Linked DNA regions of Homo sapiens. The protein of the gene in region 3 purifies or fractionates together with the protein of the main gene of each other region. This does not show direct contact. Each region holds a gene or a part of one and is shown on either strand. Other genes may lie near its edges.

Region 1 (7,275 bases), on a different chromosome or scaffold from region 3:
GGCTCAGTATGAGGCAAGCCTTGGAGCAGCCGAGACCAGGCCCCGAGGGGACAAAAGGCTGAGGGGGTAGAACAGCCCAGAGCTCCTTCGAATGGCACTCACTCTTCGGATTCTAGAAACGTGGAGGTGCCTCCTCTGTGAGCTTTGGCTCTGGGCAGGGCCTCAGAGTGGCTGCCCTTGAGAGTCTCAGGGACCCAATTGCTTGCCACTTGGGAGGAGACTTGGTGCCCAGCCCTGTTTGCAAGCTTGAAGAAGCATCTTAATTAAGGAGGAGAGAGGAAAACCAGCCAGGCCTGGATTCTTAATTCAGCTACTGCAGAGAGCATTGGCAGGGCTTCCTCAGTTGCCTCTCTCGGGCCACACGCTCCCCAGAAGAGCCGCATGCCGACTAGTGGAGCAGGGCTGGGCAGCCGCTGGAACTGCTGCCGAATGGTGGAGGCTGGGCCCCTCACTCCCTCTGCACACGCCTCCCCCAGGCCTTCTCTCCCAGGCAGTGTCGGGATGGCTGTGGCCACCTCTGTCCATCACTGTCTCTCCCCAACTCTCTGTCTTTGCCTGTTTCTCTCTCTTCTCTTGTTAAAGCTGCAGAAATCCAGTTTCTTAGAACAGCAGGCAGCCATGTGGTGCTCAGATCCAATTGATAAGGCCTGGGCACAGTTCAGGTTCTGGGACTGGGCCAGTGAGCCTGGAGAAGGACATGTCAGCTGGCTGGGCATTTCCCAGGGAAACTGGGCTCTGTTCTCTGGTGTCTTGGGTGTGTGTCCCTGCTGCCCCCAGCCCTGGCATCCTGGGCACTATGGCACTGACACATTGCTAGCACACTACCACCAGGCAGGCTCACCAAGGCTGCCCCGAGGCTGCCGGCCCCGGGAGCCTGCCTCTGGAAGCTTTGGGGTGCTGACATGATTGGGGAGGGGAGGACTGGCATCTCTCTACAAACAGTACAGAAATGGCCCTCTTCTTTCAGGGAGGACAGCAGATAAATTTCAGCCAGAGAGATTTAGGACACACTGTACTTGGGCTGAGGCAGTCAGGGCTTCTCTGTTCTTGTGATTTCTTTTTTCTTTTTTCTTTTCTTTTCTTTTTTCTTTTTTTTTTTTTTTTTTGAGACAGGGTCTCTCTCTGTCACCCAGTGGCACGATCTTGGCTCACTGTAAACTCTGCCTCCCAGACTCAAGTGATCCTCCCACCTCAGCCCCCTGAGTAGCTGGGACTACAGGTCCATGCCACCATGCCTGGTTAATTTTGTTCGTTTTTTGTAGACAGGGTCTCACTATGTTGCTCAGGCTGGTCTTGAACTCCTGGGCTCAAGCAGTCCTGCCTCAGCTTCCCAAAGTATTGGAATTATAGGCGTGAGTCACTAAGTCCAGCCTCTTGCAGCGCTTAAGAATGAAGACCTAGCCAAGCTAGGGGTGGGTCCAGAGCTGCCTGAAGGTGGAGGGACATGAGCTGTCCACCACGATGGAGGGGTGCCATGCAGCTCGGGGATCACTGCAGCATGTTGTCATGACAGCCAAGGACTGTGGAATTCCCATGGGCAATGTGACACCCCCATCAGGGTGCTGGGGTCTGCCAGGCCCCAGGCAGTCCTCATATGTACCTTGGCCTGTGAGAGGACCTCTACTGAGAGACCATGCCCTGACATCTGGGCTTCTGCAGTGGTGAGATGCCTGCCTGGGGTTTGGATTCCATGGCCTCTGGTGCATCTGAGGAGCTGAAGGGCCGCAGGGGGACCCTGCCTGCCTGTGCTGCCTGCTGTGCCGGGTGCTGGGAAAATAATCCGCAGTCCCTGTCGTCCCTGAGCTTTCAGGCAGATGTTTATCAGAGAATTCCCCTGAGCTTGTGTTGTAGTCTGTCTGCTGCTGCTTTAACAGAATACCCGGGACTGGATAATATAAAGAAAAGGCAGTTTTTGGCTCATGATTCGGGAGGCTGGGAAATCCACGATTGGGTGGGTGCATCTGGCGGGAGCCTTTGTGTTGCATGACAACATTGTGGAAGGTGAGAGGGCAAGAGCACTTGCGGAAAAAAGCATGCTGGGCCGGGCTTGCTCTCTAGAATAACAACCGCTCTCCCGTAAGGAACCCGCTGCCCTCCTGACCTAGGCAGCTCCTCTCAATACTGCTGCCTTGGGAATTAAGCTTCCAACACTTGAACTTTTAGGGAACACACTCAAACCACAGCAGCATATAAGCAGAGAAGGCCAGTCAGGGGAGGCCGGTCAGTGGCGGTGAGGTGTGCAGGGAGCCGTGGAGTGAATGGGGCCAATGCGGGGGTGCACCTGGAAGTCGGAGCTGCGCCTCCAGAGGCCCCAGGGGAGAGTTAGAGTGACAGGAGTGGGTGTGAGTGGGTCCAGGCCGCGCACAGTGGGGGCAGAGCCTGCAGAGCCTCGCAGTCCCAGGGAAGGGATTGATTTTGTCTTTATCACCCGCAATGCCAGGCTGTGAGGGTTTGGGGGCTGGAGGAGAGGGTGAGAGCAGGAGGCACTGGATCGCAGGACACAAGGGACAAAGGTGGAGCTGACAGAATTGGGGTGTGTTTTGGAAGCGAAGCTGGCAGGACTGAGGGGTGAAGTAGGAAAGGACTAGGGGATACCTCTCAGCCTCTCCTGTCCCAGGATGCAGGATTGCACCCCTCCTCAGTTTCCTCTGCCAGCCCCAATCAGCCCCACGACTTCCTGCTGCCGCAGGAAGCACAGGTGGTCCACTGTGGCCTCCTCTTCTCCTGGGCTTCCCTCTTGCCTTGTGCATCTTCCCTGTGCTTCATTCTCCCCTGGAGTTAGGGCAGGCATTCCTTCTTTCTCCATACAGGCACACTTCCTACAGCTGCACGGGAGATCTCTGCCCCCTCCCAACCCTCTACCTCTGACCTTCAGGTAACCTGCCTGCTTGTCATGGTTCAGGTGTTGGCTTTCCCGCTGCTGGTAGCCCGGCAGGATTGGCTCCCACCATGTTCTGCTGATAGAGCTGGGCTTCTGCGCTTTACAGACAGGCTGAGTTTCTCCACTTAGGAGGTGATGACGATGAGTCTCAGGGAGGCTAAGTGCCAGCCATGGTCATTCAGCAAGTCAGTGGTGGAGCAGGAATTTGAAGCCAGCCTGTCTGCCTCCATGCTGCACTGTTAGATTACATTTATGCTATTTGGGAATTAGTTAATTTTTATTCTCCTGCTAGACCTTAAGCTCCTTGAGGGTAAGACTATGTCTCCATCGTGGTTTCTTCAGCACCTGGCACCACACAAGTGTTTCTGTTGGTGGATGAATGAATGAATAGACAGACAGACTTGGGGATAGAGGAAGAGGTGGGCCCTCAGGGGTCAGCCTCGTGCCTTCCTGTCTGAAGGGCAGAGCTAGCCAGGTGTGAGCTAACTGCTCCCTGTGTGTTCTCTCCCCACCCCCACCCTACCTGGCCTGCGGCTGTGGCGGATGGCAGATGTTCGCCGAGGAGGAGGCTGAGCTGACCCAGGAGATGTCCCCAGAGAAGCTGCAGCAGTATCGCCAGGTACACCTCCTGCCAGGCCTGTGGGAACAGGGCTGGTGCGAGATCACGGCCCACCTCCTGGCGCTGCCCGAGCATGATGCCCGTGAGAAGGTGCTGCAGACACTGGGCGTCCTCCTGACCACCTGCCGGGACCGCTACCGTCAGGACCCCCAGCTCGGCAGGACACTGGCCAGCCTGCAGGCTGAGTACCAGGTGCTGGCCAGCCTGGAGCTGCAGGATGGTGAGGACGAGGGCTACTTCCAGGAGCTGCTGGGCTCTGTCAACAGCTTGCTGAAGGAGCTGAGATGAGGCCCCACACCAGGACTGGACTGGGATGCCGCTAGTGAGGCTGAGGGGTGCCAGCGTGGGTGGGCTTCTCAGGCAGGAGGACATCTTGGCAGTGCTGGCTTGGCCATTAAATGGAAACCTGAAGGCCATCCTCTTTCTGCTGTGTGTCTGTGTAGACTGGGCACAGCCCTGTGGCCGGGGGGTCAGGTGAGTGGTTGGGTGATGGGCTCTGCTGACGTGCAGGGCTCAGCCCAGGGCATCCAGGAACAGGCTCCAGGGCAGGAACCTGGGCCCAGGAGTTGCAAGTCTCTGCTTCTTACCAAGCAGCAGCTCTGTACCTTGGGAAGTCGCTTAATTGCTCTGAGCTTGTTTCCTCATCTGTCAGGAGTGCCATTAAAGGAGAAAAATCACGTAGAAAGCTTCACACTAGTGCTGGCACCCCCCAGCTGTGAGGTAAGGCAGGGAATCATCTCACTGCCCCTCTATCGGTGCCCACATAACAGCCTCAAGGCCGCTGACCTGGCCGGCGCCTGAGGCCTGTCCATACACTGGTGCTGTGGTGACCCAGGCAGCTGATGGGCTTGACAGCTGCTGGAGTGATGGGTGCTGGAGCAATGGGTGCCGGGGTGGGGTGCTGAGAGGTGCTGGACTCTGGAGGCCCAGGGGCCAGGCCTTACTCTGGGAGAAAGCTGGCAGTGGGAGCCCAGGGGAGCCCAGGCCTGCCTGGCCCACCTGACAGGGGAGAAGTGCCTCTCTGTGGCCTTGCACCACTTCTGTGTCCAAGCAGAAACAGGGCCAAGCCCAAGGAGGAGGCCTCAGAGCTGGGAGCAGCCGTGCCTGGCGAGTCCCGGCCCCTACCCAGGCTGGCGGAGTCCCGGGCTGGAGCTGGCTGCAGGTTGCCATGGCAACCCGGGCTCTGGGCTTTTCAGACTCGGATTCTGGTGTGTTTGTTTCTCAGCTTTCCCAGTGCACCAGAGGCTTGCTCTTGCGGGCCCAGGCAGCCCCTCCGGCCCCCAGGTGGTAAAGTCGGGAGGGCCAGTCTGGGGCAGGACTCTCCTCTCCCTGGCTCTAGGCCTCACTTGTAGAAATCTCAGTTTTACTGAGCTGAGGGCAAATTGAGGCCCAGAAAAACATGGGGTCAGTAGTTGGCCTTCCCTGCAGTCCCTTTGCTTGGCCACCTGGCTCTTCTCCTCAGCCCCTCTCCTGCTCGCCTCTTGCCGCAACACGACACGCAGGAAGCTCGGAGCAGAGCCACGGCCTGCACGGAGCCCCTCCCAGCAGGGCAGGCTGGAGGCAGGAGTCCAGGCTGATGCTGGAGTAACAGCTTCCCCAGGGCGGGAGGCCTCAGGGCTAGGGCAGAGTGGGGAACAGACTCGCAGTCTGCCAGCCATTGGGTACCTGCTGCCTTTACAGCCTCGCAGGAGTCTTCGAAGTAGATTTTACAGATGAGGAAATCATGGCTCAGAGAGGCCAAGTGATCTGCCTGTGGGGGCAGCAGTGGGCCTGCGGTGCTGATGGTGCTGTGGGAGGCTTGAATGGGAGGCCAAGAAGGGGACGATGTTGAACTGACAGGCAGCGGAGGGAGGACCACGAGAAATGGCCGGGCATGTGTGGCCACAACAGGGCAGGCAGGTTTCAGACAGGAGGTGCCAGCGCCTGGATGAGGCCAAGGTCAAGGGGTGCTTTAGAGGTAGTGTTGGAAGATCTAGCGTAGACTTGAGAAAGGGGCAAGGTGAGGTTTGATGGGGAGAGGGGCTGCCTCAGCAGAGGCTTGGAAGACAGGAGGACTTGGGGCTGGGCTGGGGATGAATCTATTCTAGGCTTTCAGCATTCAGAGGTGAGCACCAAGGCTGGACAGTGGGAACAGTGGACAGGCGAGAGTGTGGGGCCTTGTGGGGAGGCCAGGCCGGGCGCTCGGCTGTGTCAGGACCAGGCTGGCCCTGGAGGCCTCTGTGACCACCAGGGTCTGGCCCGGGGTGTGGAAAGCGTCCCTATGGGAGGAGTGCCACTAGTAGGGGCCTAACTGCAGTCCCCAGTGTCCCCTCTGCCCCCAGGTGTGCTGCCCTCAGCAGCGATTCTGTAAAGCAGAGGGAGGCTTTGGGCCAGGTGCTCTTGAGAGGATTTCTGGGAGCGAGGATGGAGGAACGGGCACCTGGGGGCTGTAGGGAGGGGGCTGGACCAGCGCCAGGCTGCTGAGCCCGAGGCCTGGGAGGTGGGACTGCGTGCACTCTGCCCTCACACACTCAGAGCATCGGAATGGGAGTTGGGCTGCAGTCTCTCTCCTCATTGGCCGCATCCAGGTTCGTTCTGGACTGTTAAGCAGACCCTCCAGGGAGAGGGTGGCGAGGCGCCCCAGGGTCTGGGCTTGGGCTGCTTGGGGGTGGGTTCTGGCTCCGCCTCCTGATTCATCGCGGCTTGTTGTCTGCAGGTCAGGAAGGAACCCCTTCTCTGCCTTCCCTTTGGCTGCCATCCTGGGAACTGTGGTCAAGGAGTGTGACCGGGGCTCGAAGTGAGGCAGGGAGTGGTGACGGGGGAGGTGGGACTTCCTCCTGTGGGGCTGGAGCCTGCTTTCCTGTCCTCACTGTCTTGGGATGGGCTGAGAGGTGTGCTGGGCTGACACCCACAGGCCCTCAGTGATTATTGGGTCCCTGCTCCTGGGCTGGGCTGACCCGGGCCCTAGTGTGGGAGGATGGCAGGGAGGGTGGTGGGCCTAGGTCCTCACCCCATCCCTCAGCAGCTGTGGTTTTATGAGTTCACTTGTTCATTCATTATTTCATTCACACTGTGGCTGTTGAGCAGTCGTGTGTGTCAGGCAGTTGGAGCTGAGAAGTCTGCTGAGCTGGGTGAAGCCAAGGAAAGGCCTCCCAGAGCTGGTGATGGCCAGGCTAAGCCCTGCAGGCTGCAGGAGTAGCAGTCAGGGATGGGCAGTTGGAAGGGCCAGTCTGGGGCAGGCAGGGCAAGGGCTCTGGCCCTGGGAAGATACAGGAAGGCCAGAGAGTGGCCATTTGCAGAATCCACAATTTCGGGTCCTCCGGCAGCTTGTCAGCCCTGCCAAGGGCTGTGCCCTCATCCTAGCAGGTGTTCTCTGGGCTGCTGCTTATTCATTCATTTGTTCAACAAATCTGGTTGGGTACTACGAGCCAGGCACTGTTCTAGGGCAGGAAGTGGTAGGACAGGAGGGGAGAGGGCTGGACCATGATAAATACACATGCTTCAGGGGAGGGCCAGGCAAGGAAGACAGAGCCCAGTGGGAAGGGAAGAGGGGTAGGCACTGCTGTTTCCCCTCAGTGGTGGGGAAGGCCTCTGAGGAGGGGCCAGGCACAGGAGCGCAGCAGTGAGCCATGGGGGTGCTTTGTAGACAAGGGGATAGCAGAGGCAAAGGTCCTGCAGGAACAGGCCAAAGCACTTCAGGAAAAGCCATGAGAACCAGGCCTGGAGCAGGCAGAGACCGAGGGAGGAGTTGCAAGGGAGGGCCGCCTGGGGAGGCTGTGGAAGGGACCTGGGATTT
Region 2 (6,630 bases), on a different chromosome or scaffold from region 3:
CAACTCCTCAAGAATTGCCCTTTTATCAACATGCACAATTACTATGTATCAGTCAAAAATAAAACAAAAAAAGAATTGCCCTTTATTTCTTACACATAGTTTATTTCTCATCTGAGCTCTACATATGACTGTCACATAGGGAAATTTTCAGCATATTTCTGTCTTCCAAGAATAAGATGGAAAGCCAGTCCTTATGAACTGTAACTTCCCTCCTTGACCAAGGTTACTAAATATTTTATGGATTGGGTGATTGATTAAGAATACTGATTCATGAATAATTTAGAAGGCTAAATATAACCAGTCTTCTAGTCCAATTTAAGAGTAAATGGGAGCTCTAACAACTTGAACTAAGAAAAGAGGCTTTCTGATGGTAGTCACTATGGATAGAATCATCATCAGGGTTGTTGTGGGAACCAAATGAGTTAATAAGTGGAAAGTACACATGTGAGTTAAGATAATGCATGAGATGAGTGCTTAGCACATAATAGGAACTCAATAAATGTTAGCAATTATTATAGCTCTTTGTCACCTGTGGAACCAACAGACCTTTTCTTTCAATAGGTGCAAACAGAAAACCAGCGCTCTCGTTAACCCAGTAGATCTTCTTGTCAAACTCTAATGTGGGTTCATCCTCGGTATCGTTGATAATGACCTTCGCCTGGGTGAATTCCCCTAACAGGGCATAAGCTGGCATGCTGAGCTCCACAGTGAAACTCTCAACATTTTCAAACACGTCATCATCGTTGATGACAATGGTGCAGGACTTGGTGTCCTCTCGCTCATCAAACTGGACCTGTCACAAAGGAACCAACAAGAAGTTAAGCTGTGCCTCAGCTTCCCCTGCTCTGCTTCCCCAGGGCATCATAGGAAAAGAGCATCCAAGTCCAGTGGGCAGAGCACTGACTGAAATAGCTGGTTCTCCCAGCCCTGGTTCCCTGCTGCATCACCTGGAACACCCAGCCACCTCTTCCCATTCTTAACCTGTACAGGAGGGCTGCTTTATTGTATAAGGACATGAAGGAGCAAAATCTCTCCTACCATTGGTGACTGGAGAAAAACATGTAGTAACTCTTTATAGCCTGTCTTATTATCTCACTTGGGGCAGCAACAGTCATCATTTGATGACTCAGTTCCCTTTCTGGAAGAACTCTGGCCTTGGAGTATGAAGTTCTGTTCTCAGATCTGGTTCTGTTACTTCCAAGCTGTATTAGGTTATGAAGCTTTACAAACATCAGATTCCTCATCAACTAAAGAAAAGTCATAATATTCCTACCTCATACGCTTCTTGGGAGGACTAAAGGAGGTCTTGTATATGAAGGTGTTAAGTGTATTTTAAAGTACCAAACAAACATAAGATATTATCATTAGTATCACCATATTACTTACACAATTAAAATTGACATAGAATTCCAGTGTACTGAATAATGGAATTTAAATTCATAGAAAATTACATTATAAACAAGGTAGACTAATTTTAACTTGATATTTTGACTACACCCTTTGCCATTAAAATGTGAATCAATTTAGCCCAGTACAAAACAGAGAAATTATTTTATATGTACACAATTGTGAACTTATAGGGACTTATTCTGGTTTTACTTTGTTTTTTTTTTTTTTTAAAAAGAAAGAAATTAAAAATCTTCAAGTGAAACCACGACTATGGACTTGCCCAAAACTGAAACTGCAGGAAATGAGCCTGGACTATACTTTGTGTAAACGGAGATAACTGAAATATGTACAAAAAACAGACATAAATGTCTGGGGACACACAAATCTGCAAAAATTTTACTCAAACAGAAAATTATTAGTATATATCTAATCAACTAATAACACTTTTATTAAGCTTCATATTTTAAAACACTCCCAGTGAAATGAAACACTCAACAGATCTTTATGTAAGATCTAGAATACACTGACAGTCTTCTGTCTTTCCCTGAAAAACACAAGAATATCCTCCGTCTTATCATTTAGCTGAAAGACATTAGCTTATCTGTTCTTTCCTAATTCCTCACTTACATTTGACATTAGAGACATTAGCTTAGTCCAGCTGAAATGCCTCAATTAAAGAACAGAGCCCACTTCTCTTTACAGAGATCTGTGTTGCCATAATAACAATAAAGTTGCTTTGAAAAAAAAATTAAGTGTCAGACATTGTGCCCTCCATAAAAGATGACAAATACATGGGGCCCTGTATTTGTTGACTATTTAAGTTGACTATTTAAGTCCTCCTTTCTCTTCCACTTTCACTCTCTCCTTTTTCTTTCTCATTGCCACCTTTAATTACCACTGGTATGTAGATGACTTGCAAATTTCTCTCTGGACACCAGACTCCTCTCTGCACTGCCTGCCCATCTATACAGTGGTCAACCTGCTCTTTCTAAGACAATTTATACCTAACATAGCCAAAGCAAAGTCACGAGCACCAAACCTTGCCCAACCGGCTCCTCTTATATGTCCCTTCCTAGCAAGAGGCATCATCATCCATCTTTCAAATGGCCCCACTGTCTAATCAATCCACTGCCAAATCCTATCAATTCTCACTCATCTGTCAAATCCATCCGCTTCTCTCAAACTTCACTTCATAATCGAAGCCCAAGCTCCCATCATCTCAGCCAGCCTACCCCAAGGGATTCCCAACCAGTCTCCTTACACACTCTCTTCTCTCCCTTTAGGTAAAGAAGGTGAGAGGAGAAGAACGGTTGGGATACCAAAGCTGAATATAGAACATGATGCTTGGAGACTTCTTTTTGTCATGAAGCAAAATGTAAAGACTGAGAAGCTAGACAACAACTTCCCCTTTGGCAGTTAAAACTTCAATGGAGGTTAGAGAGACTGTGAAGAACAAAGTACTATGGGAGGGGAACATAGGAAAACTATTTAATACTTGAAGAAGGACACCAGTGAAAAGCAAAGTTGGGAAGAAGTAGGAAAGTGCCACAATTGCTTGCAGCCATGTCACAGCCCTTGCTGGAGCCTCCCCCAACCCCACTACCCCACCTACCTGGCCAGCATACTCTACATAGTCCTGTTGCCCAGGTTGGGAGCTGACCCTGGAGCTGGAGCTGGCGGTGCCTTGCTCGGTGCGACACAGGACGATGGCATATTGGTTCAGGTTCCCAGTCCTCTGCACCGTGACACTGACAGACCCTGCCTTCTCACTGACATTGTAGCTGGAAGCACACAAAAAGGCATCTCTTAAACTATGCCCCATGGTTATGAAAAAACAACTTGTTTAATGCCTGTCTCTTCCATTTGGTTCTTGGCATTAGGTAGTCAGAGAAGAGGAAGTTTGGTTCCTCTAAGAATCCAGGCTGTAAATTGAGGGAATGAGTTCACCTGAACAATCAGAGCACGAAACAAACAGGGAAGCTGTGGATGCAGAATGTCGTCTTCCCTGCTTTGCAAGCAAGCTAAGAGTCATTTTGGGAGATGGACAGCACATAGGAGCAATGAACTTCAGATTTCAGGGCACAGAGAAAGGAAAAACAATCTCTCCCTCCTGGGGTTGAGTAATCACAATAGGTCAGTGGGTTCTTAGGGAAGAAAGCTGCTCTGAAGGCAATCAATGACTTAGGTGGGAACTGACTGGACCAGATCTCCAGGAACTGTGTGATGGAGTCAGAGCAGAAGCAGAGGTAAGAAAATGTGAGGTAAGCCTACATAACAGAGATGTTTAGACAAATAGAACTTTATGACAATGGGGGAAGGACATGATTAATTTAGCTTGCTGCTCAGAATCTCTATTGCATTTGTAAAGTAGAAGGCCAACTATTCATATGCTATTGATTCATAATAAGTATCTAGGTTTGGAAAGGCCACAGAAAGTAGGGCATGAGCTGGGCTTTGTTTTTCACCACTGAGGATGGCCCCTAGACCTGGGTGCATGTCTTGTTGCTGTGAGGACAGCAGGGAAAGTGACTCTGAGAGCTCAGTCCTCATTGCCAGCTTTGGGACCGTCTATACCACTTAGTCCATTAAATGTTAGAGGGTTGTCCAGAAAAAGGGATGAATTTTATTGAATTTATTGAATTTTGAAGGTGATACAATTGAGAGGTAAATAACAGCAAAACATTACATATGTAAAAGTTGATTCTAATTTTCCTCTAATTCTCCAAATGTGTGTAAGAGTAGAATAGCCTGAATTTGGGGCACATGAAATCAAGGTTTTAAGTCTTCCTTTTTTCCCCCAAGTTCCAATTTTTATCTGAATTTTCATGAAGTTGATTTCTTGGATAGTGAGTCTCTGAAATGTAGACTTAAAGAATATTTCCCCCACATAAATTATAATCCTAGTTATAATCTAACCTATAAAATCAGCACCATGCTTGCACACTACCTTTAACAATCAGTATCTCTCTGTTTGCCTTTCTAACTCTCCAACAGATTAGAAAAGCATCTTAAAGGGCTGTCCACATTAAGCCATGCATTTAGCCCTACAGATATACATTCCTACCAAACCCAAAGAAGCCAGGGGAGAAAACAGGGTTGGGAACAAGGAGAATACAGATGGAAGGTGAAGATATTGATAGTGTGGGCCAGTGATTATTTTCCAAACTTGAATGCCTATTTTTATTTTTCCTATCAGTTCTACTAGACTCTCTTCTAAAACTTGAAGAGACAGAAGCAAAAACATTTGTCTGAGCAGCAGTAGAGCACATCGTTAAGATCACTGGGCTTACATCCTGGTCTTACTTCTTATTAGCTATGTGACTGTGGACAAGTTACATAAACAAGTTTCTGTCTCTATTACTTTGCCACTGTGGAGACAGGAATGGAATTCATCTCAGAATTCCAAGTATTATATAAGATGATGCATGTCGAGTCCTAGTGCAGCACCTAATACATACAGTACTCAATAAATATTTGGTGAAATTATTACTTTTATCACTGCCATCATCACCATCACCGCCATCAAGAGGTGACTAGAGCTGCCCCCCAGCATCCTTCATCCTGACTCCCTCTGCTTGCCTGATTGATTTCTCAAGAAGGAAAGCACAGTAAAACTTGTACCTGGTATATTTAAAGCTGATGAGTGACCACTGGATATGGAAGACATTGTCGCTGACCACATTGGGTTTACTGTCTTTCACCAGAAACTGAAAACTATCCATCATCTCACGGATCTTCTCCTTGTGCAACACATAACGAATCAACCCCAAGTTCACATCCTCTGTGAGAAAAAAGACTCACTGTGAATTAACCCAGGGATGTAACGACAGCTTCATAGATTACCACACCAACAAACCTAGTTTATTCTTCTAATGTATTACAGACAAAACTTATTTTTCCAAGCACCAAAAGTATAGTAGTTGTTAAAATAAATGTTTCTGTCAGATTTTAAAATAAAATCCTGAAGCTCTGTGAAAAAAAAGATCTGTCTTTAAGTACAGAGATATTGTAAATATCTCTTATGCTGTTATAAAATGAGAATCCCAGGGTCCTGACAAAAAGCACTTCAATAAATGTCTGTGAATGTTGATGGCAAATCCTAGAGTTGACAGAGGAAAGTCTTTGACTCCATCCTCTGTGTTTATAGCCTCATACTCAGACCTAATTCCTTCTAATAAAGGTTCTTTGGAAGGTATGTGCTAATAAGAATAGCTGGGGTTGGGTTAAAACTTCCCATACACAAAGCACAGCTAAAAAGGTGTGAGGAGAGAACATACAATTGAGGACAGAGAGTAAAAAGAAAATTCATGGAGCATGAATTTTGAGATGCAGTTTTGCAATGACTGCTCCCAGTCAAGTCAATCCTGAAAAAAGTCTAGAGGAGCCTGACAAGCTTAACATGGCCTGCTTGAGATGATTCAAAACAGGGAAAATATTTCTGTTGAGCAACCTATACATGTTGATTTTAATTTCTAGGCTGAAGACTTAAAGTCTATAATCCTTAGAGAACAAAAAATAAATCACACAGGATCACAGATCTTTCATAATGTCTGCTTGTTATTTTTTGCTTTCTTGTTGTTATTGTTTTTAAAGAAAACCAAGCAGCATCATGCATTCTTTTCCAGAAAACCTGGCCAACACTTAGAGCAATTTAGGAGTTGAGGAAGCACGGTAAAGGTGAATTTTTCTTTGCCATAGTTCATCATCACAGGGAAAAAAATCAGGAGAAATAAAATTCTTAAGTTGGATGGTTAAGCACTAGAAGATCTCTGCAAAGTGGTTACTTGGGCATAAGTAGCTGGAAGTGGCTGTGAGAAGAATCTGGGAGATAGGCAGTGTGACATTAGCATAGATTTCTCCCATTTCTAAGTTCCCAGAGAGTCCCCACCCTGGGTGAAAGTGGCAGCAGCTCTGCCAGGCTGCAGCTTGTTCTCCACAAAGCCATGCTTAGGGCCCGTCGTTATCTCATAGACAAGCTGCGCGTCCTCGGTGTCTGGGTCCATGGTCAGCAGTTCCTTCTTGGTGATCAGGTTGGTTGCCTAGAATAGAAACCCATTTAATTTAATTCCTGAGGTGGGAATAAAGCAGGAACAAGACCCTCTGACTCAGATTTAATTCAGTTCAACAATGATTTACTGAGTGTATTTACTGCATGGAAAGCTCTGTCAGGATTGGAGAGGCTATGAGGATGAAAACCATTCCAGCTTCTGCCCTTGAGGTATTCACACTTAATAGGGAAAG
Region 3 (6,630 bases):
TGTTGAACACTGAGCTGGAGGTGAGTGGGAAGTCACCTTGTCTGGCAGCCAGCACTTTTCTAACTTCTCAAATTCCAAATTTACATGGGAGAAATCACAGTGTTTGGCTCCATTTTACTGCCACCAGCCTTGATATTGGATCTCAAGGCCAGATTGTAGGTAAATGGGAATCTGACTGTAAGCATAGGTAACAGGAGAAAACGGTCTGACTTGTTTGAAGCAAGTAAGACTTTTCCGACTGTCCAGCTTTTTCGTAAGTTCATGAAACAGAAATCCTTTAGATGTGCTGGGCTCCTCGAGTTTTAAAATATTTCCATTTTCCTTGTAAAACATCACTTTATCTGATGGTATAATAAAGGAGACTGAATTGTTGGACATAAGTCATATTCTTTAGGTTGCTCAGCTCTTTCAAAGAGCACAAGCACCAAGAATGTCTCAGGTGTCCTGGGCACTGTGAAGTTTTATTTATTTATTTATTTATTTATTTGAGACGGAGTCTCACTCTGTCACCCAGGCTGGAGTGTAGTGATGCAATCTCAGCTCGCTGCAACCTCTGCCTCCCGGGTTCAAGTGATTCCCCTGCCTCAGCCTCTCGAGTAGCTGGAATTATAGGCACGTGCCACCATGCCGGGCTAATTTTTTGTATTTTTAGTAGAGACAGGGTTTCACTGTGTTAGCCAGGATGGTCTCGATCTCCTGACCTGATGATCTGCCCGCCTTGGCCTCCCATAGTGCTGGGATTACAGGCGTGAGCCACCGCGCCCGGCTGGCACTGTGAAGTTTTAAATGCTTTGAATGTACTGTTAATATATAAATTTGTTGAATGGAGTAACGAAGGAAAGCAGCTGAATTTGCATGTGACAGAAAACAAGTTGTTACACGTGGAGGATGCAGCATTATATACTTACTAATACGATTAGCAATTTTTTTTCAGAATATATCAGAATTTCCTTTAAAAAGTGAAGCTACATATACTGAACTTATATCCACCCTACCCCTCGCTCAATTAAATTATTTCTGATATGAAGGAAAGGATTGCCTATAGCTAAACAGAAGTTTTGGCATAGATATGACTGAGTGGTAAGGGATAATGAGATATATAATATTGGTTATAGTTTTCTTTTTTCCCCAACTTTTAAGAAAAGAAAATCTAAGAGGAAATAATGTTTCTAAATGTTAAAGTTCTTCTTGTTAAAATTAAAATGTAGTGTGAAAACATATTCATGGTGGTAATGGTTTAGGGTGGTGGTATTTGAATTTTTTGTTTTTTTTTTTTTACTTTTTGAAATAAAATGTTTTATTTATTATAAGAAATTCATGGTCTTCCTCGGTACTTGGTCCATATGTATTTCTTTCTCCTCACCCTCCCCTCTTCTAACCACCTCTTTTCCAGAATGGATGGTGATGCCAATTTTGCTCCTAGGTTGTCCTCCAGCCACCCCCAGCCCAGTTTTCACTTTCTAGCTTTGAAGATTGTCCAGTTTTCCAGCTTAGACTAGCATTGCCTCTACGATAGTTCTAGGTATCTGTGAAGATTTTTTTTTTTCCTGTAGCAATCATGAAATAGCTACTAGTGCTCTGGACGATTGTGCTTAATGCCATTTGGGTGTAAGGCCTCCTAATTTCATTAGTCTTACCACTTGTGTTTGCAAGGATAGCTGTTTGGAGTCAGCAGTGCATGGAACATGTGAACTGAGACAAATCTGTTTGAAAATCTCAACTTAAGATTTCAAATCCACTGTGTATACTATTTAGCTGTTAAGTTTCTCAGTCTAAGAAGAACACGTTTTCCTCTAGAAATAAGCTTAACCCAGTACCTATGCATCGTTCATTAATATAATCAGATTACGGCCTAGATGTGGAATTTATTTCTGTTTCTATTTTCTCCAGCTTTTTAATACAGCTCAGACAGTCATATACAGTTGTACACGATGTGCACTGCACAACTCTAGGGTGCTCCATGCATATAGACATATCTGTATGTGACAGCCCTAAGTACAATGTGGTAGACACTCTGGACATTTGGTAAATAAGTATCTACATCCTCACTCTTCTCTCATTCACATTGGCCTTCTGGCCAGCACTATTTCTGGTTTATTTAATAAACAATTCTTGTCCCCCAGAAATTCTGTGAGTCTTCTGAAGATGCTGGGGAAAGCCAGCCTTCATAAATCTTTTCAATGTCACTAATGAAGACATGTCACTATTGCAACAAAGGAATACCAGGCCATAGTAGGCTTTCACAACTTTTTTCTGACAGAATTTGTTTCTTTCTGCTTTATCTTCCCTGTGTACTGTCTTTTTTTATCCACCCTCTTTCTTAATTACACTGGTAGAAGAATATTGGTGGGTGATGGAGTCATTCACATTCTGTGTAAGACTAGAATCAGTCCAAGATCCACAGGAATGTGGGATACTTCTTTCATGAGAAGCCACATGGCTCACAAGACTTCTTTACATTTGTGTTACTTGCCTTCTCCTGAAATTGTCTCTACAGTGAATCAAATAACAAGGACTGAGGTGTATTTTCCATATTTAATTCCAGGAAGCAGTCCCACTCCTTCTCCCTGCCCGATTTCCAGTTCCAAAGTCATGTACAGGGAAGTCCATTGACTTTGATGTTGGTCAAATGGCCCAGCAAGCTTTTGTCCACTTTTCTGTCAGACACAGTCCTTGGCACAAAAGACATCTGAAATACTTCCCATTAATTTCTTCTTTATTTATGACCTTGTAGTTAAGTGTGTTGAATTATATGCTTCTATACACATCTGTTTTAATCCAGTTACTCACTTATAACTGGTGACTGAAACTTTTATATCACTATAGCGTATTATTGGTACCCAGGATACAATAGAATCCTCAATATCTTACATCTTCAATATAGTACTTCCTTGTATGACTTATTTCTTAACATAAAAATCCTGTTTTAGACCTGTGGATAAACCTTTACTATAAATCCCAGAGACAATTTCTGGAATGAGAATATAGTATTTGTCCACACACATGATTCCATGTAGAACTTGAGGTAATAAGATCTGGGACTCCCAGATACATTTATTATTACCACAATTGGATAGAGGTGCTACAGAAATAGGCACACAAATGACAGTAAAATTGTTTCTGAGAACATTTCTAGGCTCAACTTTTTTCTACAACTTAGGATGAACAGAGAGAGTGGAAACTGTATATAATTGGGAATGTGACTGAGATGAGACAAAGATGACATGGAAGCATTTCTTCTTCCCTTGCTTTTCTGGTGGTAAGTTCACTCTTCTGTCTTCCTTGCCACTAGTTCTTGCAGTCCCTACCAAGACACTAGGGCATTATACAGCAAACACACCCTGAGGCCCCCTGCTACTGCATCATGAAAGCCTTAGCTGGTTGTGATGTCCTAGTTCATAAAGAATCTGCCTAGTCTCTCATTAGAGCTTTCCAATATTTGACAATTCATTCATTTATTTTTTTCAACAGGTATTTATTGGGCACCAATATATCTAGGCATTGATCTAGGGGCTGGGAATGAAGCAGGAAATAAGTCTAGGGGCTGGGAATGCAGCAGGAAATAAGACAATGTTTCAATTCTCTTGGAATTTGCATTCCAAGTGTGATGGGTAGAGGCAGACAATATGCAAATGTGTAACATGTCAGGTGTGATAAATGCTATGAAGAAAATCAAGTAGGGGGAGCGGATACAGTACTGAATAAATCAGAGGAGACCTTTCTGATTCAGTTATGTCTCTACAGAGTCCTGAAGGTAATAAGAGAGACAGAGGCAACCATCAGTGCAGTGGCCATGGTGGGCGCAGCAAGTTGGCTTCGATGTCTGGGTATTAGCCAGGGAGCCGGTGCAGCTGGAGGTGGGGTGAGTGGAGGCCAGAAGTGCAGTTGTTGAGGTTGGAGAAGTAGCCAGAGAAGATCATGTAAGGTGTGACTGTGCTCCCATAAAACTTTATGGACACTAAAAATTGAATTTTATGTAATTTTCCTGCATCATGAAATTAAAAAAAAAATTGTTTCAACCATTGGAAAATGTAAAAAATTGTTCTTAGCTAACAGGCCATACAAAAACAGGCTGCAGGTTAGATTTGGCCCATGGGTCATAGTTTGGCAATTGTGTTATATATAAATTATTACACTGTTTTATCTTCATCATGGTACACATCCATACCTGACATGTTTTATTTGCCTGTGTATACATTTATTGCTTTGTCACCGTCTACTAGAATACAAGTTTTTTGAGAAAAGGAGCTCTTAATTGTCTTGTTTACTGCAGCATCCCAATCACCAGTGAAAAGCCTGTATGTAATAGAGTAGATACTAAAAACAGTATTTGTTGACTGATTGATGGACTAGACCTCAGGATTTTTAGATACCCAGGATCAGGATATGAACTACTGCATTAAATCATCTCCAACATCTACTCTCATGATGGCTTGTCTGACTTCATGATTTAAAAAAAATTCTAAAGCATTTTTAAGGCAGTATATTCACCCTGTGCTATTTTCCTGTGGGCATAGGATAGGGTTTGTGTGGATGTATCAAAGACTTCTCCACTGTCCTTCCAGGCACAAGCCATCCTATAAGGCGTTCCCTTTTAGGAGCCAGAGGTATAGAAGGAAGTCATCTGAGCCCATTATTCCAGCCTGTTGGTAACAGAAAGAGAGATGAGCAAAGTAGCATTTGGCTGCACAGGGGTCTGGACAAAACTTCAACATCTTGATGTTTTCCTTCATCCCTGAGAGCCTTAGAAATGCTACCTATGCTTTCATTTTATGTTAGGTTGTTTGTAAAATCATGGTAAATTATGGCAAAATACTCTGGTCAGATACTTTATCAGGTTAGGCCAGGATATGCTGTGAAAACAAACACCCCCGAAATCTTGGTGGTTCATAAACAACAGAGACTTATTTATTGCTTATACCACATGACCAGCCTGGTTCATCTGGGGTCAAATCCACATGGGGATGAAGCTGGCTGAGTATCCGATCTTGAATGTTAGGAATCACTATGACAGAGGGAGGGAGAGCCTGAGAGCGCCTCACCCTGGCACTTAAATTCTCTGGCCCAGAAGTGACACATATTACTTCTAGTTGCAGCCCCTTGACCCACTGCCCCATCTAGCCACAAAGGGCCAGGAAGTGCAATCCCACCATGCGCTCAGAAGGCAGAGAGATGGAAATATTTGACAAACCGTATTAATGACTGTGACACATGGTGAGTTCTTCACATTGGTGACTTCTAAGTGCTTCTGAACACACCTTTGACTGTAGAATGTCAAAAACATTCTCAATTTTACAGCAGTGCTGGAAAATGAATTGTATTGAGACAACTTGGGAGGAGTAGAAGGAGATGGAATAAAAAAAATTCACTGATTTCTGTCATGTGTCATGCCTCCTTTAATGCACGGAAGAACGTATACTTTGCTTAGGAAATCACATTACCACATTCAGAACAACTTTAGTGAAGATGGGAAACAACCATGGCTGGTCAATGGGGTAACGTGTGCTGAAGGAAGACAGGTTTATTTCTCAGGAGGCATCTTCTCCCTGGGAAAAGGAAAGACACATATTCATCTCAGTAAATATTTGTGGAATGTCTACCATGTGCCAGGCATATGAGTGGAAATGATGTTTTTATAAAATAAAGATGTCTTAAGTATTTGCATGTCTTACTAACAGTCAGGGAGTTCAACTTGGCCAGTGGGAAGGATAATTTTATGCCTGAAACTTTAGTAATGTAAATTTTTATGCTGATTCTCTTTTTGTCATTCACTGAGTATTCCTAAGTAACTATAACACTCACATATTGGAGATAAGTATTGGTTTCCTGAAATCTAGGTTTGGCTAACATTGCTTCTGGAAAGAGAAAATAACATGTGTTGAATGTCCCTATGGCAAATTCTTGCTGTTACTTACTGTTCCATTATGGAGAGTGTTAGAAAGAGTGTAATTTTGATTGAATGAATATGCTAAAAAAAACACCCTAAATAAGAAACTCACAAAAAGAACAGAGTGGAATGAAAAAGTGAAAACAACTTTGCAATGGTGTGCTTCGTTTATAAGTACATTGTCACAGCAAGACTAGGGATGATTGGGCATCTTAGAGAGTGCAGAGGATGTTGATAAGGAAGAGGAAGAGGAGATAAGTGGATTTTGATATGGGACACTAGATCCTTAGGGAAGAAATGTGAAAGAGGGTATTCTGGGCTGACTGCCGCTGGCATAGCAAGGCTGCTTTGTAGAAGGGACAATAAAGTTTTGCATAAGGATCCTTTTTCCCATCCAATGGATTATGCTATACTTTAGCTGGAATAGGGCTGTAGCAGTTAGCTATTGCCACAATAATGCTGTGTAACAAAGCAGTCCAAATTTCAGTGGCTTAAAACATCACTACCTTATTCTCACTTATGTCTCCAAGTCAGCTGGGAGTCAGAGGATTAAGGCTCAAGGCTTAGGTTTGGTGCAGGTCAGCCCCAGGTGTCTCTCATCCTCCTTTGATCAGTGGGCTAGCAGGAGCATGTGCTTGCAATGATGGTGGAAATAGAAAAACGTGCAATCATATGTGAGTTTCAAGCCTCTCCTTGCATCATGTCTTGTAATGTCCTATTGGTCAGTAGGGCTGGGAAATATA
Region 4 (6,630 bases), on a different chromosome or scaffold from region 3:
CAGTTTTGTGTAGGTATACTGATTTAATAATTTAAGAGGTTTTATCAAGGTAGCAGAAGGTTAAACGTTTACTGTGTTTGCATTATTCAGAATGTTGCTTTGTTTTTTTGGCCTCCGTCATGCTGATAATAGATTCTATTTAACTCTTCTCCATACCCAACTATACATATAAAATTTTTCCTATAATCATAAAATACATAAACAGTTTGACTTTTAGCATGGCATTTTCAGTCTATCAAAATAAAAAAAAAACAAAATGTCTTAGCAGTTATCTGTCACATAGGTATATCAAATTTTGTAATAAATTTATGGAAGAGGTAGATTCAAACATGCCTATAATAAACATTCAAAATGAATAATTTGGGGCTTTTTTGCTACCTCCATAAGCATTTTGCAAGAAATATGATTTCCAACAGTCATTGGAATTTTTCTGCGTGAAACTGTAATACTGTATTTGGGATCATTCTTTGATTCTTAAATTATATTCATAAATTCATAAATTGAGATTTTAAACTCTAAAAAAGGAGTTTTCTTCCAAACTTTTCAAATTAGGGCACTCTATCAACGAGGGAGAGAAGGCCCAGTGAAGAGGTATTGGTAGCTATTTGACAAACCTGACATATCCCCTTAGAGCATAATTTCAGCAAAGATTTGGGAAAAAAAAGCAAACTTAAACATTAACAAGTTCAGGCAGGGCGTGGTGGCTCATGCCTGTAATCCCAGCACTTTGGGAGGCCGAGGCAAGTGGATCACTTGAGGTCAGGAGTTCATGACCAGGCTGGTCAACATGGTAAAATCCTGTCTCTACTAAAAATACAAAATTAGCTGGGCATGGTGGTGTGCACCTGTAATCCCAGATACTCAGGAGGCTGAGACAAGGGAATCGCTTGAAGCTGGGAGGTGGAGGTTGCAGTGAGCCAAGATGGTGCCACTGCACTCCAGCCTGGGCAACAGAGTGAGACTCTGTCTCAAAAAAAAAAAAAAAATTAACACGTTCAGATATGAGGTTGGATACAAAACAGACACTAATTTTTAAACACTGAATTTAAACTTCTAAGAACTTACTGCTTTGGGCCCTATCCATATGCTCAGATTGGGAACGGGTCAGTGGGTGGGATGATTTCATTCTCTTCTGCCTTTAGTGGTATTTCACCTGGGAAGTTGAGAAACATCATTTTACTGTATGTAACAACATACTTTTAAAGATCTTACTAAATGCATTTTATAAATTAAACCTCATTTAAATGCATTCTAGGACCTTAGAAGTTAACAAAAACATTCATAGCAGGATGTCTTTTACACTTGATCTTAGCCAAAAGACCAAGAAGCGATGCAAGATGCCTTTTAATGGAGAGAGTCTTCTTACTAATCCTATGTGTATATCCTGATTTTCTTCAATATGTACTTTTTAAATTTTAAGTTCCAGGGTACATGCTCACGATGTGCAGGTTTGTTACATAGGTAAACGGGTGCCATGGTGGTTTCCTGCACCTATTAACCCATCACCTAGGTCTTCAATATTTTTTAAAAACTCATTTCCAGTGTGTGTTTAATAGTAATTTAACAAGAAAAATAAGATCTCAGATGCTTTATCAAGCTCAGCTTCTTCTATGGAACAGAAAAACTTAGCAATATTGGGGTTGAATCCTTGTGAAGAGCTATACATACCAAACTCTATCCTAACCCCATATGCTTATTACAAATTATAATTCCAAATTTTATCACCAAATCAAACTCAGAGTAATAGAAAAGAAATATTTAACACAAACTAATAATTAAAACACAAATTTCACCTATTGTTCAGGATATCTTTTTGAGAAAGGTTTTTGTTAAAGAAAATTTCAGATACAAACATAAAGAAAATTAAACAATCAATCCCCATATTCCCAGCTCTCAATAATGAGCCACTCATAGCAATCTTTCAACTTACTTTTAATCCATATTTTGAATCCACAATAGTTATGATACCTACAAAGGAAAAAACATTTTAATCACTTTTTAAAAAGAATGCTTATTAATACTTGTGCAACCATACTTCAGAATGAAAATTAAAACTAACCTATTTCAGTTCACAAATACTACTCAATAAAACAATGTACTGTTTTTTTCTCTTGCCAGTGCTGCCATTTAATTAAATTCCAGTAATAAGTCAATGCATTTCCTGAGTGGCTAGCACTATTTTAAGGCACTAGAGAAGATATAAAACAAATAAAAATTTTAAATTAAATAAATAAGAAAATAAGATTTCCTTGGCACTGAAAAAGCTTACAATCCAAAATATAAGTCAAATTTCATAACATAGTCAAATGTGATAAGTACATAAGACAGGTTATTTCTAGTTTATTTTCACATAATCAAAATCAAGACTTTTCTTAAGATTTAAATTATTGCCTAAAGAATGAGACATCTTAAGGTATCATTCCTAACATCTCTCACCAAATCCAAATCCAAATCCAGCTCATAAATGTTTTACATAACATATGCCTAAGTTTCCAAACTACCAATTCATTTTGCAATCTCTGAATATATGCTGATAACAAAAGAATGAGTTTAATTATGCTAAGGAATTCAACCAGTTACCCGCCACATATATTAGAGCTCAATGATGGGGCCCAGCTTAATAATTCTTAAATTTCTTAATGATTATTACTTTTGAAAAAGTAAGAAAATTTCGACTGGTTTTTAAAAAGGTGAAAAAGGGAAAGAGAAAGGGAGAAAACATAGTCGCTTAACTAAGAAAGTTTCTAATATATTTTAAATGAAGGCATATCATTGCCCAAAAGTGTTCAGGTAAATAAAGTAAGGGAGGAGTGTTTAATTCTTATCTTCAAGAGAAAATAAAAGCAAAAATATGATCCTCATATTGCCTGGAGGATTAAAATAAAAGGCTCTAACATTATATTAAGGGCATAAATCAAACAACAGAGGATACAGAAAACCTACAAAGCATTTTTTTTTTTAAAGAAAACCTTAGTGGAAGCACTAAATTGGAAGTTGAGTGACATCGATTTCCACCACTGTTTGGGGTTTTTTAATCTATATGAACAAAGATTTCATCATTAAACTAAAGTGTGAAAAGAACAACAATGCAAGGAATTAAAGTTATAATATGAATGAACAACAATAAGCTTAACCATAAAGATTTTACTAAAAAACAAAAGAGGCAGGGTGTGGTGGCTCACGCCTGTAATCCCAGCACTTTGGGAGGCCGAGGCTGGCGGATCACCTGAAGTCAGGGGTTCAAGACCAGTCAGGCCAACATGGCGAAACCCCGTCTCTACTAAAAATCCAAAAATTAGCCAGGTACGATGGTGCACGCCTGTAGTCCCAGCTACTCGGGAGGCTGAGGCAGGAGAATCACTTGAACCCAGGAGGTAAAGATTGCAGTGAGCCGAGATCATGCCACTGCACTCCATGCACTCCAGTCTGGGCAACAAAGTGAGACTCTGTCTCAGAAAAAAAAAAAAAAAACAAAAAAAAAAACCAAGAAAGATAAAAGAAAACTGTTTTTTAACTTACCATCAAGGTAAATATCACTCCCTAATTCAGCATCAACCCAAAACATAGAAGCCACTGCACCTGAAAATATATAATATTCATCAAATAAAAATATTTCTTCACACTGAGAAACATGATTCTATCCATGTTTTAATTTGCCCTGATAAAATTAACAGGTAAACACATATATCTTCTTATGGAAATTATAGTGATAGAAGCTTTAACTATTTATAGCAAAAGGGAATTATAGTGATAGAACCTTTTACTATTTATACCCATTCCATTTCCATCTCTCGTTATTTCCTTTAAAAAAGACCAATTCTAACCACATATAAACAAAACATCATTCTTCTACCGATGCCATAATAATTTAATTAACAGATATTATCAAACAATTTGAGCAGTATGGCTTTGTGCACATCAGACTTATTTTTATTTTCTCACCTCTTTAATATGATAATCATTCAATCATAAATAGTGAATTATCACTCTAAAGGAAAAGGAAAACAAAACATAGATAATTCCAAAATCACTTGCCCAAAAAAAATTTACTTGTAATCTGTGTAGAACTAGAAGTAAAATTATATACTCTATGGCATTACTAATTATTCCTCACACTATTTATTTAGGACTGTATAAAACCTGGGTCTTAGGAAAAATTTTTCCTAAATAATAAATTAAAACTTGCTTTTGACAGAAATTGGTTCAGTACCAAACCACATACCCTGATTAGTATGCCACAACGCAAGAAAAAGAAAACTGACAGCAAGGAAAGTATTTGATTTTTGAAAGCATCACAGGCCCAGTTAGTGACAGGGCTGTCTAAAAGAATGAGTGTAGGAGAAAAACAAGGATAATCAAACTCATTCCAACGTCTAAAGCTGTCCACCTGCTCTGACAAGATGTGGTCCCCCAAGCATCACTCTGTGTCAACAATGAAATACCGGTCAGCTGTTTACAGTGATTACTCATGCAAGATATAGCAAGGGCCACAAGATCTAATGGTTTCCTGATACCTATTGATTTTTTTCCCAAAAACGTAATAGTTTTCCAATTTGACTCAAATAGGATTTGTGAGTAACAGGGGCTGAATCAATGTCCGTTCTTTTCAAGGAAATTACTTTACCATGACAATTATTTAACTTAGAACTGGAGAGTGTCAGTCTCCAAAATGGGAAACAACTGAATTGCCAATAAGAATTCTGTTCACTTTCTTGGCTAAAACATGATTTTAATTAATGAGGGGGAAAATTAAATCTACTGTATCACTACTCCAAACAATAAGTCATTTAAAAAAGCATGAATTTTTTCACTCAGTAAAATATCTAACATACATAAATCATTTTGTAATTTTTAAAAATTCATTGATTTTTAGTCTAATAAATAGTTTACAAATCCTACTGTTAATATTTGCCTCTTAAGTTGAAATGTAAGAGTATATTAATGCTTTATTCTAAAACTGGTATTTATCTTTGATATAATACTTGCCAGACTACATGAGAAAGATCTATTTAAAATTTGGATGTAGGTATTTAGGAGGAGTAAAGATGAATGAACAAAATTGATTAGTGGCTCTCAAACCAGGGTGCTTTTCTCCCCAGGGAATATTTGGCAATGTCTGAAGATGTTTTTGGTTGTCTTAACTAGGGGAATGCTACTGGCATCTAGTGGGTAGAAGCCAGGGATGTTGTTAAATATCCTACTCTGCACAGGGCAACCCCCTCACAACAAATAATTATCCAACCCAAAATGTTATTTGTGCTGACACTGAGAAAACCTGAACTACATTTTAGAATCTCCCTTCTTCAAAATCTAATAAAACAAAAAATAAAAATAAAAAATAAAACAAAAAGGCCAACATTTTATTAGCAGCAACCAAATATAAAAGGGCCTGCCATAAATTTTGAAGACTGATAGTCAAAATAAGAAACAAAGTTATATGTGATTGATGGTCATTCCCAACTCTACCCCTACCTCCAATAAGAGGTTGTAGGGAAATAGTTTACAAAATCCTAAACACTTACCAGAAATACACTCCAAAATGGCAAAAAGTAGAGCCGAGGAATGAATAAGCAACAGAGGGAAAAGTCAACAAAAAAATTTCAAGAGTGAGTTTTAACCATCTCCATGCTTTGGGAAGGAGAAGGTCAGGTCACATTCTAGGGCTCAGAACAAAGAGAAATGAGAGGTCTGAGGTCGAATGATGTCCCCATACAAGGCAAAGGAATTTTATTCATAAGCAGTTGGGCAGACCCAAGAGTGAAATACTTGGTACTTCAAGAGAGCAGAGCCTAAAAGCCACATTGCCCCATTTGGCTCTCTGAATCACCACTTTTCCCTTCTCTTTCCCTCCACTCCAACAATATACAGCTTTCAAACTAGGGCTCAGGAGAAAAACAAACTTGGGTAAGGAGAGTGGAGTATTAAAAATATTTCCCATCAGCACCACATAGAAGTTCTCCCATATCAAGAAGAAACTTGTATGCATATGTATTACAGCCTGACAAAAAGAAATACACACATACAGGGAATAAAAAGCAAGAAAGAACACAAAATGAAGAAATGAATAGGGCATACAAGTGGCAAAGAACCCATTCTGGAAGGATACATAACCCAATAAAAACTAAAGAAAATTCTCAACAACTTCATCATAATGAAGAACTTGAAAACAATACAACCTTATAATAAACAAGCTCAAAAGCAAGAAGCAGAATAAGATGAAAATGCAGTTTGTAGTGCTAAAGAAACTTAGAGCCTATATAACACAATGACTTAACCAATTAATTCATTTAAAATATCAAAAACAGGACAGATACTGGAGAAAACAGAATTATTGACAAAAAGAAAGGCTTCAGATGATCACAGTAAATGCAAAGGTAAAAGACAAATCAAAGCAATTAGAATACATACGAAGAACAAAAGAAAATTCAGTATTAAAAAAACTGGTGTCATGAAGTAGAGGATCTAATAATTTGACCAAAAAAAAGTATTCATGGTAACAAACAAGGAAAATGTTCTTAGAAGAACTAAGGGCATATTATAATTTAGGGAAAAATGATTATAAGTGACACTTAGATATACCTTGTTTATATTACTGAATTTCAAAAATAAAGAAGAAAACTCTCAGGCATT
Region 5 (4,841 bases), on a different chromosome or scaffold from region 3:
TGGATTTTCCCAGTTTGCTCTTTAACAGTGCTTCCTTCTCCCTTGCACATTCACCAATGCTCAAATCTCAGAGTGGTCATATTTCCAAGCACACGTTTGAAAATTCAACAAATTTACTGTAATAATTTAGGGAAAATCTGGGTACAGTTGCCATCATCACTCCAAAGGATAAATATGATCTATATACATAGGAGAGTTGGATAGTTCGATACTAGAGAAATACACTGACATCAGCAGTTAGTTTTGAAATCAGAATAGGAACCCTTGTTTTGTGAATCTCTTGTCATAATCCTTCACATTCTCTTTCTTAATTACTAGGTTAATTGTCTATCCCACTAACATGCAAGCTCTAGGAGGTATATATCTCTATCATTGCTTTGTTTTCCCCAGCACTCACTCAATAGATATTTGTTGAATTAATATGTTTCCAGAATAGTTGGATTACTAAAAATATTAGTTCATAATCTGAATGAAGTCTTCCTCATTTAATATGATGTAACATACAGCAAAGCCCAAATACCACACGGAGCCCTTGAAAGGGTAAATGTGAATAAGGAAAATCATTTTCCTTTGACAAGATGTTCTTCCACTTAGCCACATATAATGTCACTGTTTTTCATTATAATCCTGTAACTCCCATCCAGAAGAAAAAAAATATATAGACCGGGTACGGTGGCACATGCCTGTAATCCTAGCACTTTGGAATTGCCTGAGCTCAGGAGTTCGAGACCAGCCTGGGCAACATGGTGAAACATCTCTACTGAAAAAAAAATACAAAAAATTAGCCGAGCATGGTGGTGTATACCTGTAGTCCCAGCTACAACTCGGGAGGCTTGATTCAGGAGAATCGCTTGAACTCAGGAGGCAGAGGTTGCAGTGAGCTGAGATCACGCCACTGCACTCCAGCCTGGGAAAAAGAGTGAGACTCTGTCTCCAAAAAAAAAAGAATGTTTATATGTAATCATTGTGAAATAAGTAATTTTTAATTGATATATCATAATTGCACATATTTTGGGGTACATATGTCATTTGATAAATGCATACAATGTGTAATGCTCAAATCAGGGTAATTGGAATTTCTATCACCTAAACATTTATCTTGAAATAAGTAAATTTAACACAGAATATTAAACTCAAACTAAAATGAACACACGAATGTATAGAAGTTAAAATGTAACATTAAATATTAATTACAAAGTAGATCACTTACAAATTATCCATGAAATGATTAATTACTTATTAAAGTAATTTTTTTAGATACAATATAACTCTTATTTTCATTACCTTTTCAGGATTTTTTTCCTTTGGCCAAATCACCATGGATTTAGTTTTATCCTAATTTAATCCTCACCCCATTTATAACTTTAAAAAAATCTTTCATAGGCAGAACAGAACTAGGCATTGTATCAATTTGTGTTAGAAAAAGGGAAATCATTTTTGTAAAATTTGTCCTTAAAAATACAGTAAAAAAGGCTGGGCACAGTGGCTCATGCCTGTAACACCAGCACTGGGAGGCTGAGGCAGGAGTATCACTTGAGTTAAGGAATTTGAAAACTGACCTGGGCAACACGGGAAGACCCTGTCTCTGCAAAACATAAAAATTAGCAAGGCATGGTGGCATGTGGCTGTAGTCCTAGCTACTTGGGAGGCTGAGGCAGGAGGATTGCTTGAGCCCAGAAGGTCTAGGTTACAGTGAGCCATGATTGCACCACTGCACTCCAGCCTGGATGACAGAGAGAGACCCTGTCTCAAAAACAAACAAACAAATGTAGTAAATATAGACTACGAAAGATGGGAGGGTGGGAGGAGGGTAGGGGTTGAAAAATTACCAATTGGGTATCATGTTCACTATTTGGGTGATGTGTACACCAAAAGCCCAGATTTCACCACTACACAATATATCACAATATATGCATGTAAGAAATCTGCACTTGTACCTCCTAATTACATAAAAATTTAAAAATGTATTTTAATGTAGTAAGCACTTTTTTTTTTTTTTTTTTTGTGAGACATGCTCACACTCTGTCATCCAGGCTGGAGTGCAGTGATAAGATCCTGGCTCTCTGCTGTGTCAACATATTGGGCTCAAGCCATCCTCACACCTCAGCCTCCTGAGTAGCTGGGACTACAGGTGCATGCCATCAGGCTTGGCTAATTTTTGTATTTTTTGTGAAGATAGGGTTTCACCATGTTGCCAAGGCTGGTCTTGAACTCTTGGGCTCTAGCTCTTTGGGATCTGCCCGCCTCAGCCTCCTAAAGTGCTGGGATTATAAGTGTGAGCCACCTTACCTCGCCCTTTTTAGGTTACAAATAAACACAATTAAAATGTAATTTTTTTCTTAAAGCAGAGATATCACATTAGTGTTAACAATTTATAATGCAAAGTGTTAGTAGCTCAAATAATGAACTACTAAAAAAGAAAAAGACAAAGAATTCAATAAAATAATTAGAATTTATAAATAGCTAATAAACATATGGGAGGATATTCAAGTTCAGTAGAAATTAGAGAAATAATATTAATATTCAAACCTACAAAATTTAATTTTTGAACTATCAGATTGGAAAAAAACTAAAGCATACACTTTCTCATTCTGTTGGTAGAAATATTAATTGATAAAAGATTTTTGGAAAAGAATGTAATTGAACCTCTAATAATTATATATTTGCATAACCTTTGATAGAGATAACCTAATTCTAAAATTTTCTTCCATAGAATTAATCACATAAAGGTAGAAGGATGTATGATTTAGGATGTTCACAGAAGTATTACTTCTAAGGTTAAAAACCTAGGGTCAGTATGGCAAGATTCCCTGCTCCACTTAGGCTGTAGAAAAGTGGAAAGGGCACCACTCCCACCCTTACAACAACAAAAGCCAAATTATCTGCATAATCATGACTTTTCTTGAAACTATCAAAGAGCTGAGGTCGCAGAGCAACAAACTAACCAGAAACCTAAAGAAAGACAGGTGTTTCCAAGGAAAGCCAGAATGAGAACACTTTCTAATCCAGGGCAGACAGGAAATGCCATGCAATTTGGTAAAAATAATTTAGGTAAAGATTTAAACAAATTGCTGAACTCCATGTAGGGGCTGACGTAAGAGTTTAGAAGCCCTAGAAATTACAGACACAAAGACAATTCATGCTCATTCACAGGCTCTTCTCCACAGACCTTACCATGCACTCAAGAGAAAACAGAGTGCAGGGAAGGAGATCCGAAAAAGCCTCTCTCTTAATATGGTCCTGAAAGCAGCACCAGCTACAGGGAAGCCACAAAGCCCCATCTAGATCCTTCTCGGTCTCCTCTACACAACACAAGTTTTCAAGCCAGGAGAAAGGCAGCAAACCTTGTCATTAGGACACATATGAAGACTCATTGCAACTACAGATTAGGAAGAACAAACAAAAAAAGCTATCTATCATGCAGAAGGAGCAAGAAAACATATTGAGTCCTGATCACTAGACATCTCCCCTACTGATGAGAGTCAGGGAAGAGGAACAGTGAAAATTCCACACTCCTGAGACCCAGGGATACAACACCTGCCTAAGACTGAATTTGTACGACAACAACATAGAATGCTTCCCCAACCTCCGCATCTTCTCTGCCATGTTAGCAAATGTCAGGTAACAAGAGCACTCTGCTAGGGGTGGGCAAGACACTTGAGAGACACAAGTGGGAGAGACATTTTCTTGAGGCGTATTATGGAGGGAATACATAAAACTGAGCTGCTATGATGAAAAACTCTCTAGGCCAGGCACGGTGGCTCAAGCCTGTAATCCCAGCACTTAGAGAGGCTAAGGCAAGCAGATCACCTGAAGTCAGGAGTTTGAAACCAGCCTGGCCAACATGGCAAAACCTCGTCAAAAATACAAAAATTAGCAGGGCATGGTGGCGCACCCTTGTAATTCCAGCTACTCAGGAGGCTGAGGCATGAGAATCACTTGAACCTGCAAGGTGGAGGTTGCGGTGAGCCGAGATTGTGGCACTGAGCTCCAGCCTGGGTGACAGAGTGAGACTCAGTCTCAAAAAAAAAGAAAAAAAGAAAGAAAAGAAAAAGAAAAACTAGCTACCAAACCATTCCCTTATTCTAAGCAGAAGGTAGTATTTTGAAAATCTGAGGCTGGGTGCGGTGGCTCACACCTGTAATCCCAGCACTTTGGGAGGCCAAGGGGGTGGATCATGAGATCAGCAGTTCAAAACCAGCCTGGCCAAAAACACAAAAATACAAAAATTAGCCGGGCGTGGTGGCGGGCGCCTGTAGTTCTAGCTACTCAGGAGGCTGAGGCAGAAGAATCACTTGAATCCAGGTGGCAGAGGTTGCAGTGAGCCAAGATTGCATCACTGCACCCCAGCCTGGGTGACAAAGTGAGACTCCATCTCAAAAACAAAACAAAACAAAATAAAAGATCTGAAACCTGTGGTGCATTAAGGGTAATCCTGGCACCAACAAAACTTAAGAAGCTCAACTTTTCACTAGATTGATTCAATCCCATTACTAAGAGCCTAGCAAAAGAAATGTGCTCATTTCCAGACACAAATATTCTTTATCTCAGTCTCTACTGTTATACGTAAGATGCCCAAATCTAAACCAAAAATTACATGGTACACAAAGATGCAAGAAAAACAACACTTGGTCAAGGGACAAAGCAAACAAAATGACGAGACTCAGATATGACACAGTTGGAACTACGAGACAGGGAATTTAAAATAATTATGATGAATACATTGAAAACTCAGTACATAAACTAGACAAGTGTGAACAGATAGGGAATTTCAACAGGGAGGTAGAAATTTTAAGAAAGCATCAAATAGAAATGCTAGAAATGAAGATGAATCTTTCTGA

What was found.
Region 1: the proteins of VEGFD (region 3) and SIL1 purify together in Homo sapiens (affinity purification with mass spectrometry; one large-scale study listed by BioGRID and IntAct). This does not show direct contact.
Region 2: the proteins of VEGFD (region 3) and FRAS1 purify together in Homo sapiens (affinity purification with mass spectrometry; one large-scale study listed by BioGRID and IntAct). This does not show direct contact.
Region 4: the proteins of VEGFD (region 3) and ZNG1C purify together in Homo sapiens (affinity purification with mass spectrometry; one large-scale study listed by BioGRID and IntAct). This does not show direct contact.
Region 5: the proteins of VEGFD (region 3) and PROS1 purify together in Homo sapiens (affinity purification with mass spectrometry; one large-scale study listed by BioGRID and IntAct). This does not show direct contact.

The regions. Positions count from the first base shown.
Region 1 is NC_000005.10:138,943,630-138,950,904, reverse strand, and holds the end of SIL1 (nucleotide exchange factor SIL1 precursor), read left to right. Parts: intron 1-3,431; coding exon 3,432-3,788; 3' UTR 3,789-4,181; downstream 4,182-7,275.
Region 2 is NC_000004.12:78,471,978-78,478,607, reverse strand, and holds part of FRAS1 (extracellular matrix organizing protein FRAS1 isoform 1 precursor), read right to left. Parts: intron 6,429-6,630; coding exon 6,278-6,428; intron 5,171-6,277; coding exon 5,011-5,170; intron 3,171-5,010; coding exon 3,002-3,170; intron 794-3,001; coding exon 547-793; intron 1-546. UniProt on the Homo sapiens protein: Involved in extracellular matrix organization. Required for the regulation of epidermal-basement membrane adhesion responsible for proper organogenesis during embryonic development. Involved in brain organization and function.
Region 3 is NC_000023.11:15,376,177-15,382,806, reverse strand, and holds part of VEGFD (vascular endothelial growth factor D preproprotein), read left to right. Parts: intron 1-6,630. UniProt on the Homo sapiens protein: Growth factor active in angiogenesis, lymphangiogenesis and endothelial cell growth, stimulating their proliferation and migration and also has effects on the permeability of blood vessels.
Region 4 is NC_000009.12:68,253,870-68,260,499, reverse strand, and holds part of ZNG1C (zinc-regulated GTPase metalloprotein activator 1C), read right to left. Parts: intron 3,580-6,630; coding exon 3,520-3,579; intron 1,969-3,519; coding exon 1,931-1,968; intron 1-1,930.
Region 5 is NC_000003.12:93,879,572-93,884,412, forward strand, and holds part of PROS1 (vitamin K-dependent protein S isoform 2 preproprotein), read right to left. Parts: intron 1-4,841. UniProt on the Homo sapiens protein: Anticoagulant plasma protein; it is a cofactor to activated protein C in the degradation of coagulation factors Va and VIIIa. It helps to prevent coagulation and stimulating fibrinolysis.